Linked DNA regions of Homo sapiens: region 1 is linked to region 2. Evidence: fine-mapped expression QTL. Tissue or cell type: caudate. Region 2 holds a variant in brackets; the other region holds the start of a gene. All regions are shown on one strand. Distances are from middle to middle.

The links. PIP is the estimated chance that this variant, and not a neighbour inherited with it, causes the effect.
Region 1: RBP3 starts here. The variant in region 2 is fine-mapped to the expression of RBP3 in caudate (GTEx, PIP 0.98).

What each region holds. Positions count from the first base shown.
Region 1 is chr10:47,343,543-47,351,724 of GRCh38, reverse strand. It overlaps RBP3 (retinol binding protein 3), which reads right to left and starts at 3,362. Exons shown (of 4, transcript NM_002900.3): 1 at 187-3,362. The coding sequence starts at 3,240.
Region 2 is chr10:47,378,924-47,387,105 of GRCh38, reverse strand. ZNF488 (zinc finger protein 488) reads left to right here and starts at 2,813. Exons shown (of 2, transcript NM_153034.4): 1 at 2,813-2,886. RefSeq lists a silencer at 2,365-2,844 and an enhancer at 2,407-2,906. The variant C/A (reference allele first, on the strand shown) is at 3,815.

The sequences.
Region 1 (8,182 bases), 35 kb after region 2:
CCCCAGGGTCACAGAGAGTGGATGGAACAGGTTGAGAAAGAGGAAAGGACTTGACCGGTCAAAACTTAAACGTGAGAACAAATCTAAAAGCCATTGTCACGCACTGTGCACAGAGCCCTGCATGTGCGGACAATGGGTCAACTCACTCCCGGGACTGGGTTCAGCCAGGTCTCTCTTGGGTCTCACCTGCATGGGCACAATTCCAGGAATGCGGTCCTTGGCATTCTCAGGGATATGGGCTGCCTTCAGGTGTGGGTCTCCGGAGAGCATCTGCAGGTCAGCCCCCAGGATCTCGGCTAGGGCCACTTCTGAGGTCACCCTGGAGTAGCGGCTCTGCAGACCGCTCAGTTTGGTGGCCATCTTGGCCCCCAGCTCGGCAGAGGCATAGTTATCAGCCACCAGCTTCCCGGCCGTCTGCAGCACCGTGGGCACCTTGGCACGCAGAGCCACTATGTCCTGGGCTATGGAAAGGGCTTCGCTCATGGGCACAGTGATGTCGGGCTCCACACCAGCCAGGTCCCAGGCCTTGCCTGTGGTGGCACTCATGGCCATCTGGGTGGGCATGGATGCATATAAGGGGCTGCTGCCCACCTGGTAGATGCCCACAGAGAGTGCGCCTCCGGCCGTGGGCTCCCCAATGACCGTGGCCCGCTGCAGGTCCTGCATGGTGTGTGCAAAGGCCTCGGCCGCAGAGCCACTGGTGTGGCTCATCAGGATGTAGAGGTCCTTGTGTGAGCCGTAGCGCTGGCCGGCGACCTGGGGCAAGGTCCACACCTCCGTGACTTTTGAGGTGGCCCTGTCAAAGACAGAATACAGGTGCTGGCGGGGCTCTGCCTCAAAGAAGTAGGAGCAGAGCAGCGGGATGGCCGTGGAGTAGCTGCCAGGGTTGTAGCGCAGGTCGATCACCAGCGCAGCCGTGTCCACCAGCTGTTGCCATACCAGCCGCACCAGCTGTGGCCCCACGGCCTTCACTGTCTCCAGTTCAGCCATGGCGTCAAAACGCAGGTAGCCCAGCTGGCCGGGCAGCACCTCTGTCTTGAACAGGGCCTCAATAAGGTAGGTGAGCTCCTCTGGAGAGGGGACAGCAGGGGGTGGTGGGGGTGCTTCCTCTACCACCAGCTCGCCAGGGCTGTGGAACACTAGCAAGCGGTGGTCCCCAGACACCTCCTGGAGGTCTGCTGTGAGCTGAGAGGCCAGAGACTCCAAGTCCACAGCTGTGCGGTAGGCGCCCTGGGCCAGCTTGGCCCGCAGGAGGGCACTGGTCTGCCCCACGACCTCTGGCCGAGCATAGTGGGCCTCCAGCAGGTGCCCTGTGCCCTCCACCAAGGCCCCCAGGCTTTGGTGGAACTCCAGCACTTCCTGGGCTTTGTCCAGGGCCTCCTCGGCCAGCACGATGGCATCGGGCACCACTCCACCACCCAGCCAGGCCTCGCCGTGATTGTCGATGAAGGTGAGGACCGGCACGGTGAGCGCGAGGCTGCCTTCGGGTGTGTCCAGCAGCGGCACCGTGCGGGTGTGCAGCAGGTTGCCCGCGGTGATCTCACCTACCAGTGTGGCCCAGCCCAGCGACTGCATAAGGAAGGCGAACTCCTCCGCGGCCGTGGCGGTGCGGTGGCTGGTGAGCAGATACACCCCACGTTGGGTGCTGTAGCGTGGGCCCGGGAGCTCCATGTGGCTGAAGTGCTCCTGCGTGATGTTGGTGCGGCGATCATAGGTGGTGAAGAGGTGCACGGGGCCGGCCTCAGGGCCCTGGAAGTAGGACAGGAGCAGGGGCACAGCAGAGGATGGCCCTCCAGGGTTGTGGCGCAGGTCCATGATGAGGTGCTCCGTGTCCTGTAGCGGCTCCCACACCTGGCGCAGGACATATGGGGCCAACACACCCAGGACGGAGGCGTCAGCAAAACTATCGAAGCGCAGGTAGCCCACATTGCCTGGCAGCACCGACACCTGGAACACAGAGTCCACCAGTGCTTGCCGGATAGCCTCGTCCTCAGGCAACTCTGGGGCCACCCCTGGTGAGTCTTCGGCTGCAGCGTCGGGCGCGGGCCAAGAAGGAGTTTCTGTGGGCCCGATGGCTCGCACCAGGAGCCTGGGATCCTCAGACGCAGCCTGCAGGCCGGCATTGAGCTTGGTGACCAGATCTTCCTCGGAGACCACCGTGGAGAAGTCCATGCTGGCCAAGTGCTGCAGCAGGGTGGGCACACGGTCCACCAGCGTGTAGTAGTCCTTCAGGACCTCCTGGAGGCAGTGGACTACCCCTGGAAGGGCGCTGCGCAGAGTGAGGATGGCCAGGGCTTTCTCCAGGGCCTGCTCGGCCGGAGTCCCCACACAGGGCAGCACCCCGCTGCCCTCCCACGTCTGGCTGCCTCCACCAAGGGGCCCCAGGGACCTGGACACGGGCACCGTGAAGAAGAAGTCAGACTCGCCTATCCTCAGCTTCCGGAGGTCCAGGGCCCCTCCCCCAGTCCGCTCGCCCACCACGATGGCCCTGCGCATCTGCTTAAGGATGTGCGCGATGTCCTCGGCCACGCCCCTGGTCTGGCTGCTGGTGAGGACCACCACATCCTTGTCGGCACCGTACCTTTCTCCCAGGACCTGGGGCAAGGTCCAGATCTCCGTGGTGGTGTTGGAGGGGCGGTTGTAGATAGTGTCCACGTGCAGGATGGTGTTCCCTGGGTGCAGGTAGGAGATGATGTAGGGAATGCCAGAGACCTGGCCTCCTGTGCAGTGCCGGAGATCCAGCACTAAGGCGGAGGTGCCCATGAGATTCCCCCACACGTGGGCCACCAGGAACTCCCCCATCATGCTCAGCACCTCCTGGCCCGGGACGCTGTCCACCCGCAGGTAGCCCACATTACCCTCCAGAACCTCATGGCGGAGGCCCCTTTGCAGCCAGGCAAGCAGTTCCTCTTCTGAGAGGCTGGTGAGTGCTGGGACTTGTGGGGGAGGCTCGGGGGTGCTGGGCTCATAGGAGATGACCAGGCGAGGATCGTTCAGGGAGCTCTGCACCCCGGCTGTCAGCACACTGGCCAGCGTCTGCGGGTCTGAGATGCTCAGAATCTCATGGCTCTTGATGGCCTGCTGGATGGCTTCCTGCATGCCCAGCAGGTTCTCCGGGAAGCAGTAGTTATCCAAGAGGACCTTGGCCATGTCCAGCACCAGGCTTGGCTGGAACAGGTGTGTGGGGCCAGCCAGGCCACAGAGCAGCACGGACATGAGCAGAACCCATTCTCTCATCATGGGGACCCAGGGGGAGGCCTGGCTCCTGCACAAAAGCTCCCTGGACTGTGTGCAAGGCCGTGGCCCTGCTCTGTGCAGCTGCCTTCCGCCCTTGTCCTTCTCAGCTGGTGGACAGAAGGTCTGGGGCTAAACTCCTGAGTTGGGGCAAGGCTTCCAGCTCCAGTAAGCCTTTAATCCTGTCTAATTCAAGCACATCAACCCTGGGTATCGGGGAGGAGTGGCCAGGGTGGTTTGACCCAGAAGGTACATTGCATCTTATCTTGCTGTGTTGTGTCTGCATATCATAACATTAATCACTGCCATTATTTTAGTTCCTGCTACATGCCAGACACTGTGCTCCATCCTTTACAAGCTGACAGTTTCCACCAGAGCCTTGCAAAGTCCAGTTATTAACTTGCAAGTCCTCCTTGGAGAACTGTTCTGCCACTGTCTCTCCCGTGGCCTCAGGGAAATGTCTTAATTACTTATTGTGTAGATTAAATGAGAAAATATGTGTAAAGCACTTCTTCCCAGTACCCAGTAAGTAGGAAGCACTCATTACTGGTAAGTTATCTGTATTAGATATTACCTCTGTTTCATAGCTAAAAAACAAAAAAACAAAAAAACAAAACAAAACAAAGCAAAGCAAAACAAAACAGGCCAGAGAGTTCTGTAACTAATAGAAGCCCATCGTTTTAGGTGTGGACAGATAGGGGGTGCAGCAAGAAGAAGTCCTTGGGGCTACAATTGGCCCATACAGTGCAGAGGCTGAGTCTGAGGCTGGCATCAGCCTCAGAGCTTGAGATTTATTTCTATGTCCCTTTAATGCCTCCAGGGAACAGAACGGGTCCCCCTACAGCTTTCTAATGCTGGGAATGATGTGTCTGGACCACCATGTAGGGTGTGGAGTGTAGAGGCGCCCACCTTCCAGACATCACAGGACTAGTGTTCCCATTCAAATGAGGTTAGCTCTGAGAGTTAATGGCTAGAGGGGACTCCTGCTTCTTGAAGGCTCAGCCCACAGCCTGCAGTTCGCAGGGAGAATCAAGCAGGAAGTCTTGGGTCTCCGTGGTCCCAGGCTTCACATGGAATCCAGATCATTCCTCCTGACTGCATAAAGCACAAGAAACAGGGAAAGGTAGACTGCTGAACTCTTCAGATCCCAGCTCCTGCCACTTCTTATAGAAATAATGTGGGTGCTGCTTGCAACTGACTGGCTGTAGAAATCCAAGAAGTCCTGCTATGGGGTCGGAACCTGGAAGCCCTGCTTTGCCGCTGAATGCCTCTGGAGATGGGCACTTTCCTCACTTAACAGACAGACAACTACGGCCCAGAGAGTGGTCGCAAGGCCAGGGCAGAGCGTTGGGAGAGCTGTCCCAAGCTGGCTCCAGCAACACCGCCTTGGCTGAGCGGGCAGCAGGCAGGCGCCCCTGTGTGCCTCAGTAGGCAGCTGGAGAAGGTGGTCTCAGGGACGTGGGCTTTCTCTACACAGCTGAGACCCACAATCTGCTCTTTGGAAATCATTATCTGAGGATGTTTACCAACTGCTTTATGAAGGCCAAAGAGGTCAATTAGCTAAAACAAACATATTTTTAGCTCATTAGGATTTGTGTAATGCTCAAGTGACATATGGTCACATCACTCCACCGTATGCAGCCAATGGAAGTGAGCCTGATTTACGATGAGAATGGGGTGGGGCTGGGATGCTGCCAACACCTCCGGATGAATGCACTCCTTGCATATCCTTAGCCCTGCTGGGAAGCCTGGGCCTTCTCCTCTGCCTCCACTTGGAGAATCACAGTTCTGAGCATGCACTTCCGTGTCCTCAGAGGGCACTTGTCTGCCATTGCTTGAGTCCAGGCAAAGCTTCTGGCCCAGAAAGGGCTTGGGGGAGAACAGGAGTAAGACTGTCTTTGGGGAAAGGATTCCCTGGAGTCTTACTAAGATGTAGTTTCAGGATAGGATTGTCTGGACCTATCACTGGGATTTGATTTGTGTGGCTAGCCCAGAGCCTTAAGAAGGACGTGAGAAAAAATCAGACTGTTGCAAGTCCCTGGGGTGCCTGAGTTGGATGGGGCATGGGTAGAGAAGCAGTGCTTCTCCTGTGGGTAAGGCCCAAGCAGGTGGAAGAGCAAGTTCTGTCCTCAGAGTTCTCCAGACTCCAGGGGGCCAGGGTGTCCTTGCCCCCAGGCCGTGGGGGGATGTAGGAAGATGGCAGCCAGCCTCCTTAGCTCATGAGGAGAATATGTTCTGGGTAAGTCCCCAGAGTGAAAGCCGAGAGCTCTACATCTTCCCATCCAGACCCTGACAACTGTAGGGCCAGGGTGGGTTCAGAGAGTCCACTTGATCTTGGGGGCTGAGTTTTGGAGTTGGAGGGGGCTGGAAGGCCCTGCACCCCCTCACTTATACAAATGTCCTGTGGGCAGAGCTGTGCAGGGTAGCTTAGAAGCCATCCTGAACTGAACTGGTGAGAACTGAATAGGTGAGTGGGTGAGATCTTGATAAGGTGACATGAGACCTTGATCAGGCGACATGAGACCATGATTAGGTGACTCGACTGCTCTGAGCCTTGGCTTCTTCAAAAGGGAAAACAGAATAAGGAGAAAAGCCTCAGTATTGCTGGAGGATTAGGTGTTTCCATCCTAGAAGTTATGAAAGGAAGTTGAGGACGTAGGAGTTGGTGAGGGGCAGCTTGGGTCTGCCTGGGATTAGAACACCCCTGTGGTATTAGGGAAAGTCATTCCAAGAGGCTGGGGCTGCCCTGGAGACCTGGAGTCCTAGGGCTTCTTAGGCTCCAAACCTTTCCTGGGCCTCTACATATCTAAGGAGAAATGACCAGACCCAGGCTCCAGAGCCCAGCCCTGCAGCACCTGCAGCGCAGGTTAAGAGGGGGACAATGACACATCAGGGCTGCTGCAGGGATGGTCAGGGAGCAAGCGGAGCTGGGCAGTACAGGAAGGAGCGTCTTGCCTATTGCATCACAGATGTTGTCTTTTCAGTGGCCAAAGCCCTCGTCTGTCTATTGTTTTATGTTAGTTTTCCCCTCGATGTTTTATAATGGAAATGTTCAAGTGGTACAGCAAATATCTATATGCCATCATTTAAAGAAATGCTTTGACATGTTCACATTTTAAAGAACTTATCCGAGCAGATAGCGATTCATGAATCTGGTAGCTCCCCACAAGAGGCAGTTTGGGGCTCTGCAAGGGAGCACAAGGGGAGGCTTCCACAGGGTGAAGGCAGAAGTGGAATAAATATTACAGATGCTTTGGTTGCTTAGCGTTTCGGCCCTTGCATGATTTGGGACATCCTAGTGGAAAGTTCGAGACCATGCAACTGATGTCCAGTTGGCCATCAGTGGTTGGCTGGACTTAAGCTTCGGTTTCTTTTAAATTAGCTGCTTACAGTAAATGAGTCTGAGTTAGATTTCAATTTGCTCTTGTAGGAAATCAGGGCGTTAGAGCCACCTTAGTTTAATGGCTGCCTCCCTAGATTCTACCACAGACATTTTATTACCCCTTTCTCATCTCAGCTCCGCCTCACTAGCCTCTTCTACCCTGCAAGCCTCCTCTCCCCTGCAAACCAACACATTTTTAAATGCACTTCAAAGCAAATTGAACCTTGACTTTTTATTCATTTTATGTATTTTCATTTTACTTTTTTCTTAAATCAGAGGAGTAAAACATACTCATTTTTGTAGAAATGTGCAAACAAACCTTTTCCAAAGCTTTTAAAATCCAGCCTCCTTTAGTAACAAATAATCAGCATTGAATGTCTAGCCATTGTCACCTGTGTCTGTGTACACGCAGGGAGGTGCACATATAGGAGAGATCCATCCACACATCTATGGGCACCCCATCCATTTGTCCATCCTATTGTCAGCCGTTTATTAGCATAGATGATAATTTGCATTTTGTTTTACTCACTTAAACATACAACACAAACATCCTTCCCAGTTGAAGTATACTCATTAAACTCATCCTTTTAATGGCTACATGTAGTCTGGGGATCCCTAATCTAAAAATCTGAAATCTGAAATGCTCCAAAACCTGAAACTTTTTGAGCACCGACACAACACCACAAGTGAAAAATTTCACACATAAGTACTTAACACCAACTTTGTTTCATGCAAAAAATTATTTAAAATATTGATATAGTTACCTTTAGGCTATGCGTATAAGGCATACATGAGGCATAAATACTGTGTTTAGACTAGAGTCCCACTCCCAGGATATCTCATTATGTACATACAGATATTCCAAAATCCAAAAAGAATCTGAAATCTAAAACACTTCTTTCTCCAAAACTTTCAGATAATGGATACTCATCCTGTAGTAGTTCTTGATGATTTACTGACCCTTTGTGAGGCATATTTTAAGCTTTTTCTGTTTTTACTTCAATATTGTTTCAGCGATATTGCGATAAATGTTTTTGAAAACGCGTTCTTAAGGGCCTAAGGTGCTTTTTTGTTTGTGGATAAATTCCCAAACTTGGGCTTGCTGAGTCAAAGGGCATATACACTTGTTTGTTTCCTGTATTGTATTTTTTCAGTACCTTTTAAATTATCTAATAAGTACGTCCTTTTTTCACTACTTAATTGATGTATAATTAACATATAATGAACCTATTTGAAGTGTATCATTTAGTCAGTTTTGACACATGCATACCCCCCCGAAATTCTCACCGCCACCTGGGCAACATATATTGCTGTCGCCCTCAAGTTTTCCTGGTGCCCCTTTGCTCCCCAGTCCCCTCTGCATTCCCATATCCAGACAAACATGGATTTACTTGCTGCCAACACTATAGATTAGCTTGTAGCTTCTAGAATTTGCTATAAAAGAAATGATACCCTTTTTTTATCTGTTTTCTTTTGCCCAGCATAATGATTGTGGGATTCACCCATATTGTTGAGTGTACCAATAGTTCATTTATTTTGTTTGCTGAGTAGCCTTCCATTGCACAG
Region 2 (8,182 bases):
AGGTAAAAATGGTTTCGTGGGCCAGGCTCATTGGCCCTCATCTCCTCTATGCAGCCTTGGAACATAGTGCCCTGCGTCTCAGTTGCTTCAGCTCCTGCCGTGGCTAAAAGGGGCCAAGGTACAACTTGGGCCATTGTTTCAGAGGGTTCAAGCCCCAAGCCTTGGAAGCTTGCACATGGTGTTGGGCCTGTGGGTGCACAGAAGTCAAGAATTGAGGTTTGGGGCCAGGTGTGGTGGCTCACGCCAGTAATCCCAGCACTTTGGGAGGCCAAGGCCAGCGGATCTCCTGAGGCCAGGAATTCAAGACCAGCCTGGCCAACATGGTGAAACTCTGTCTGTACTAAAAATACAAAAATTAGCCTGGCATGGTGGCAGGTGCCTGTAATCCCAGCTACCTGGGAGGCTGAAGTGGAGAATCACTTAAACCCAGGAGGTGGAGGTCACAGTGAGCCGAGATCATGCCACTGCACTCCAGCCTGGGCAACAGAGTGGGACTCCATGTCAGGAAAGAAAAAAAAAAAAAGAATTGAGGTTGGGAAATCTCTGCCTAGATTTCCGAGGATGTGTGGAAACACCTAGATGACCAGGCAGAAGTTGCTGCAAGGGCAGGCCCCTGATGGAGAACCTCTGTTAGGGCAGTGCAGAAGGGAAATGTGGGGCTGGAGCTCCCACACAGAGTCCCCACTTGGGCACTGCCTAGTGGAGCTGTGAGAAGAGGACAACTGCCCTTCAAATCCAAGAATGGTAGATCCACCGACAACTTGCACCTTGTGCCTGGAAAAGCCACAGGCACTCAAAGGCAGCCCAAGAAAGCAGCTGGGAGGGGGTCTGTACCCTGTAAAGTCACAGGGCCAGAGCTGCCCAAGGCCGTGGGAGTCCACATCTTGCACCAGCATGACCTGGGTGTGAGACATGGAGTCAAAGGAGGTCATTTTGGAACTTTAAGGTTTAATGACTGCCCTATTGGGTTTCAAACTTGCATGGGGCCTGTAGTCCCTTTGTTTTGGTCAATTTCTCCCATTTGGAATGGGTGTATTTACACAATGCCTGTACTTGCATTATATCTAGGAAATAACTTTCTTTTGATTTTACAGGTTCATGGGTGGAAAGGACTTGCCTTGTCTCAGATGAGACTTTGAACTTGGACTTTTGGGTTAATGATGGAATTAGTTAAGACGTTGGCAGACTGTTCGAAAGGCATGATTGTGTTTTGAAATATGAGGACATGAGATTTGAGAAGGACCAGGGGTGGAATAATATGGCCTGCCTCTGTTTCCCCACCCAAATCTCATCTTGAATTATAGTCCTTATTGTAATGCCCATATGTAGGGGGAGGGACTTACTGGGAGGTGATTGAATCATGGCGGTGGTTGCCCTGTGCTGTTCTCATGATAGTGAGTGAGTTCTCAGGCAATCTAATGGGTTTGTGAGGGGCTTTTACCCCCTTCACTCTGCACTTCTCTCATTCTTCTCCTTCCAGCCACCCTGTGAAGAAGGACCTGTTTTGCTTCCACTTCCACCATGATTGTAAGTTTCCCGAGGCCTCTGCATCCATGCTGAACTGTGAGTCAATTAAACCTCTTTCCTTTATAAATTACCCAGTCTCAGGCAATTCTTTATAGCAGTGTGAGAATGGATTAATACAGTCTAAAATAGATCTTTCTTTATATAACTTAAAAATTACAAGTGATGAAAAGCATTTGAGTTGGTTGGTTGTCAGTTTTTTCCCCCTCTTTTGGAGCTGTATTTAGTATAATAGAATATCTTAAATTAGTGGTCTTTTATAATAAATGAAATTGGGTGTACTTCGCCCCAGCATATTAGGGTTCCCTTGCTTCATGCCTTCCATGACAGTTGGTATTATTATATTTTAACATTTATGCCTAATGATTAAACATCTCCTTGTGGTCTTAATTTGCATTTTCTAATTACTCTAGAGACTTCGTCCTTTCACATGATTTTGGTCGTTAGTGGTTCCTCTTTGAAGTGCCTATTCATGTCTGTGTCCATTCGTTGCTTTGGGTGTTCCTCTCTTTCACACTAATTCATTAAAAGTATATATCCTGGATACTAATCCTTTATCAATTGCTGCAAGTATCTTCTTTCAGTGTGTGGCTTGCTTTTTCACTCCGTTTGTTGTTTTTTAATCAAAGTATAAGTTCTTAATTTTAACGCACTTTAACTGTCATTTTCCACCATGGCCCGAGTCGCGGAGTCCGCCTTCCTGGCAGAGCGTTGCGTGGTCACAGCTGAGGTCTGGGGAGCAGAGGCGGCGGGCGCTCCCGGGGGGAGCTGGGCGATTCCGGCGGGGGGAGGTGCCGATCGAGCGGCCGCCAGGCTGCTGGGGGAAGGAGGGCCAGGAGGCCGTGGGGGTCCTCGGCGCAGACTGGAGCCGCAGGCACCGCGCGCAGCCCTCGCCCGCATCGCCGAGGCCCCGCGGGCCCAGGAGCGAGAGGTCGGGCGCCCAGGACCAGAGGGCGTAGGCGAGAGCAGGCACCGCCTCCAAAGAACGCCCTCGCCCTCCCGCAGGCGATGGCGCCCGGCCCTGACCAAGCCAGCTGGGGGCATCTCCGCGGAGCTGAGCCGGGGAAGGGCCGGGCAGCCCAGAGGGTCAGAAGGGGGTTTTCTCCCGGGGTTGTGAGTTCTTTGGCCAGCGGCACCCTCCCCTGCCGGGGCCGCCCACCCGCAAGCCCCGCCCCGAAGGCTGGAGCTTCCCTGGGGGTGGGCGACGCCGAGACCACGCCCCGAAGGCGGGAGCGGCTTGGGGGCGGGATCTGGCCGCCCTCAGGGCTCCGGCGCCAAGTTCAGAGCCACGCGCAGTGCTCTTGGCCGGGAGGAGGCTGTGCTGCACCAGCACCTCTTGCTCCACATCTCCAGAGAGCCCAGGTGAGGCGCACCCTCCTGTCTGCAGGGACAGAGCCGCGAGCGGGCGCGGGCGGCGGGGTCCATCTCACTTCCACATCAGCCTTTCCCCAGGACAGGGTTGTTGAGTCCTGCCTTTGACTGTGGGGTCCTTTCCTTCCCAATGTCGCCAGCTTCCTCTCTCTCCCACGTCGTCTCCGAGTCCCATCCCCGTTTCTGTTCCCTTTCTCTTCTCTCACTTTTTCTCCTCTATCTCTTCTTTATTGTCTTCCTGTTTTCATTTTCTTCTGTGTCAGTCTCTCTCCCTCTCTCTTTTCCTCTCTTTGTTTATTCTTCTCCCCTACCTTCTCCCTCTCCCCCCTGTTTTTTCAGCACTCAAGAATTCTGCCTATGAATTTTTCTCCTAGGGTGACTTTCAGGCTGCAGTTGTTTTCCTCCCTCCCACTGTCTCTCCCGGGGTTTATCCTGTGTTGCTGTTATTCTCAGCCCGGGCTTGCGCTGGGCAGTAGGGTAAGAACCATGCATCAGCCCCAGATCCTTTCTCCAACAGATTATATCCAAAGATCTGGACATGTATCCTGTTCACTGCCTTTCCTGGGAAACAAAACAATACCAAATGATCACATTATAATGAGTTTTTAGAATGAGCTAAAAGAACATACCTGGTTTTAGAGACAAGGGGTTGATTGAATCCTTTCCTTGACATTTTGCCTTTACTAATAGACACAGACAGCACAGCAGGAAGCTAAGCCTTGCAGAAGCATTTAGGGGGCGTTCCCACCCACACCTGCCTTCTGGGCAGGCTATGCAATGCCAGGTGCAGGGGAGGGAGGGGACAGGATTCAGAGCAGGGTTGTAGGAAGACAGTGGGAGGCCAGGGCTTTGAAACATTTGAGGGAGCCTGGAAATAAGAAATTAACAGTAAATTTCTAAAATATGTAGTTGCCAATGC[C/A]ACTGATGTACAGAAATGAAATTAATTACTCCTGAGGGAGACATTAGACATTTTATGGCAGTAATTATGGCATTTGAAAGTAATGATTTTATGTACATTAGATAGGAGGGCCAAGGGGAAAATATTTCCTGTTAGTATCAAAGATTGTCGTAGATGCATAAGGGACGAACTCTAGAAAATCAAGTCTCATTCTTTTTGAGGGATAAAATAGAACTATATCGAGGCAATTTTTTGTTTCTTGGTTACAATGTAATCTTATCAGAGATATGTGATTTAGTTTTTAATGATATTTTATGACACATACATATTTATATGTTCAAACACACACAAATACATAATATATATGCACTAAGTTATAAAAGAGCCCTTGTTTGTTTGTAAAGATCTTAATTACCAATAAAGGTTGAAGCTTTCACTTCTTGGAAATAAGTTAACATGATATTGTAGTTTATTATGACCTTTAATGAAAATTCAACTAATTTACTTTTGATTGATACAGAAATGGAAATTTGGCCGTAGATAAATCACACAGAATTAAACAGAAATTAAGTATGATGAAGGTGCATTGCAGTGTGTTCAGTGAAAGAATTTGCATATGCTAGATATTTTGGACAAATTCATAGGTATGTGCATGGAACTGTGATTTGTGAGGCTTTTTTCTGGTTTAAAAAGTTAAATTGCCTTTATATCTAATCCCTGATCCCCAACATATGCGGATTCTGGGGGGAGGGATAAAAGACTTTGCAAATGATTTAGAATCATCGTGTCTGCTTTGCTTGGCAGATTTCTTTTCAGACATCCAAGAGGTGGCAACTTTTGTTTGAAACATATAATCACACCAATTATTTAAAAAAAAAGACAAACTTAAATATTTTTAAACTTATTTTTCCTCATTAGTGGTCTGTGCCTCTATAAGAACATCATTGTCTTTTTATCCTTAGATGATGCTATTGTTGGAACCTGGGAAGGTCGGAAGGAATAGCTGAGGTAAAATCATGGACTTTTTGCCTGAAGGCTGCCAGTGGAATTGGGACCACTGTCTCAGGCTCCACCTTTATTCTCTAGTTGTATCAGGAAAAGAGCTGCTGTTCCTTGTGCTCTTGCTATCTGGCATGCACAGAGCCCTGTTGAGTCCTGTCCGTGAGTGCCTGAAGTGAAGATCACCATTCTTGTTTTACTTATGAAGAGATGGAGGCCCAGAGTGTTTGTCTGAGCTCAGGCAGGTAGTGGCAGGGTTGATTTGGAACACAAGTAGTGCCCTGGCGCCTGAGTGACCAGGGCTAATTCAGTCCCTTTATGTGACTTCCATGTTGCTGCAGCCCTGGCAAATATAACGTCTAAAATATCACTCCACACAGCACCAGCCACTGCCTATTGGCATTGTTTGGCAGAACACTGCTCCCTGTTCTATGTCCTGGCCATCCTCAGTCATATTCATGGCAGACTCTCAATCTGCACAGCAGGGCCCCATTGAAGCATTGGATCTGCCCTCTGCTTTCACTGGCCCTGCTTCTGCACAGTCTCAGACATCTGAGTGGATGATGAGATCACATCCACCCCTATGAGGGTCGACGTGGCCAAGTTATGTTGCACTAGGGCCACTCTCCCTGCTTCCATGGGTACTGGCTGTGTTCGCAGTCTCCTGCACTTGGCTTTCCTCGAATGCAGCAGGCATTGCTGCTAGAGGGGTCCAGGCGTAGCTGGCCACAGAGCCTGTAGGGGCTGACCAGGAATTGCTCATCTCCCCAGTGCCACCAGCCAGCCTCTGGGAAAGCCTGGATCACCTTCAGTGTTTAATTTCCTCAGTGTGCCAGAGCCAGGAGGATTCCTGGAAACAGGTGTATTCCCTTTCTTAGGAAACCCCAGGACCTCACAATCCAAATGCAGAAAAGGCCCGTAGATGATTGTCCTCTGGAATCTTCCAAAAGGGTCTGGGAAGCTTCTGCAGAGACTAGGGATACCAAAGGATTAGAAGACAGGAGGTATTTTCTGCTCTTGTGTGTTTTAACTGAAGAGAAAAGCAGATGCAGCAAAGCACTGCTTGGGGGGAGCGGGTGGGGGTACATGGTGTCTCTGAATAAGATCTGGTGCCTGACCTGCAGCTCAGAACAGCTTGAGGCTGGCCAGTTGGCTTGGGTTAGGGAGTGACTTCAGACATCCCAGGAAAAAGAGGTTATCCAGATGTTTGCCAAGAGTTCTTTCTTCTGTAGGTGGAGCAGGAAGGAGAAAAATGCCCAGGCTGTTTGGTCATTTATTAAACACTGTTATGCACTGGTCCCTGAGAGCTCAGGAGTAATGGGAAGGCTGCCATGGAGTGGACTCTGTCCCTTTGCACTCAGTGCGATAAGAAGTGATACCCCTAATGTTTACTGAGCCAGGTTCCTTAGCACTTTCTCTATATTAATCCTTCTAATCTTTCCCACAACCCAGTGAAGAAAACACCAAGGTGACCCTCTTTATAGATCAGAAAACAGGCCTGGAGGGGACCCACGCCTTGCCCAAGGTCACAGGTTGGATACAGCAGAGCTGGCCTCCAACCGTGGAGCCCGTGCACTTAACATCTATTTGGATGGAAGGCTCGAAGGTTACCTGAGACAACCTGGTCAAGGTGATAATGTGGGAGAATGTGGCCAGTGGTTCCCAGATGAGTGAATGATCAGTGTGCAGTCACCAGAGGATGGGTGATAAACCGAGAACCACAAGCTCTTAACACTGTGGGGTGGGCGAGGCTTCATCTCCCAGGATGCAGCACTTGCTGAGTTGGGCAACAGGGGACCCTGGTTGATGGCCCAGGTTGGTTGGAAGCCTTTGGGAGATGTGCTCTGTGTTGGTGGGGAAGGCCAGGCATGGTTAGATCCCCTGTAGACTTGGGGAGCTCAGTTTCAGAAAGTTTCAAAGATCATCACTTGATTTCTGTGATTCACGTGATCTGAGGGCTCTGAAAGTGGTGGGTGAGTCCTGGAATTAAATCTGTTTTTTTCAAGTAGGAAAGACATGGGGTGGCAATGAGAGACATCTGTGTGGCTCAGAAAGATGTCTTGCTGAGGTCAGAGGGACAAGAGCCAAGGAGAACAAGAGGAGCCCTTCCCAGGACACTCACAATGACAGAGTGACGAGGGCCAGTAAAGAGTGTCAGGGGGTGAGAGCCCGGGTGTGAACTGAACCTACTGAGGAGAGCTGACGACCACAAAGCATCTTTTCATATCATGTTCGGAGCAAGGAGAACAAGGGCTTCATAGATCCATCGCCGTCTAGGGCAGCTGGTGTCTGTGAAGGGGAGGAAGGCACAGCTCCACTGTGCCCACAGCGGTCTGGACAGAGGAGGATCTGCAGGTGCAAAGGGCGCAGGCAGGTTCCCGGAGGAAAGCAGGAGCCACGTAGCGTGGGCTGCAGTGTGTGTGCTCAGGGCTCTGACCAAGAGAATGCCCTGGCCAGGGTATAGCATGACCTGGAATGAGATACCCCCATCTGAGGTGCTGTCTGAGAGGTGTTGGAAATGAAGCCCGGAGGTGGAAGAGACTCAAATCTGATGTTGGCCCTGGGAAAGATCCTAGACTAAGAAGAAGGCTGTGAGTCTGTGGGCAAAGGAGAGACGTGCATGAGGAGCTGGCGGGGGCTCCCTGGGGACAAGTCATGCCAGCCTCACGTCATTTTCCACCTTGCAGGTCTTCGGTCTGGCCCTTGTTCTGTTGGGGTTCTGGAGGACGTGCTGTGCCCTGGCCTTACTGACCTTACTCCATGCAGTGCTGATGCATGCGACAGCGGTGACCCTCCAGGGTCCCAGGTGGGATGAAAGGTCCCCAGCTAGTTCCTAGTTTCATCTCCTCATTTTCTCCATCCTCCTGCTCCTTCTTATTAAGATCTGGATGTTAACATTGATGGAGTGTGAAGCTGGGTGGGATATTTAATTCAGCAGTTGGCGGTGTCAGGATCCACAGTGGTCTCTGAAAGCTGAGATGCTGCCCTGAGTTTATCGGGATGGCATTTGGCAGATTGGAGATAAGTGCATCTGAATTGAGACACATAGCTTCCCTCATATGGTTTTTATGAAAATGAAATGAACAAGGTGCCTTATTTCATTTGTTAATACTATTGTTTGTCATGTAGATACTTACGTAGCCGATAAATGGTAACTTCTATTCTGATACCCTGAAGCATCCTGATAGCAAATGTTCCATCCTGCTGTAAAGGAGAACTGGTTTCTTCCAATTAGTCATACATGAGTAGGTCTGGGATGGCCTGGAGAGACAGCTTAGCCAGAGCGCATTTTACAGATGGAAACCTGAGGCTCAGAGAGGTTGAGTGCTTTGCTCGGGAACACAGAGAGGAGTGATGTTTCTGCCTCTGCCTCTTTGGGAGACACTGGCC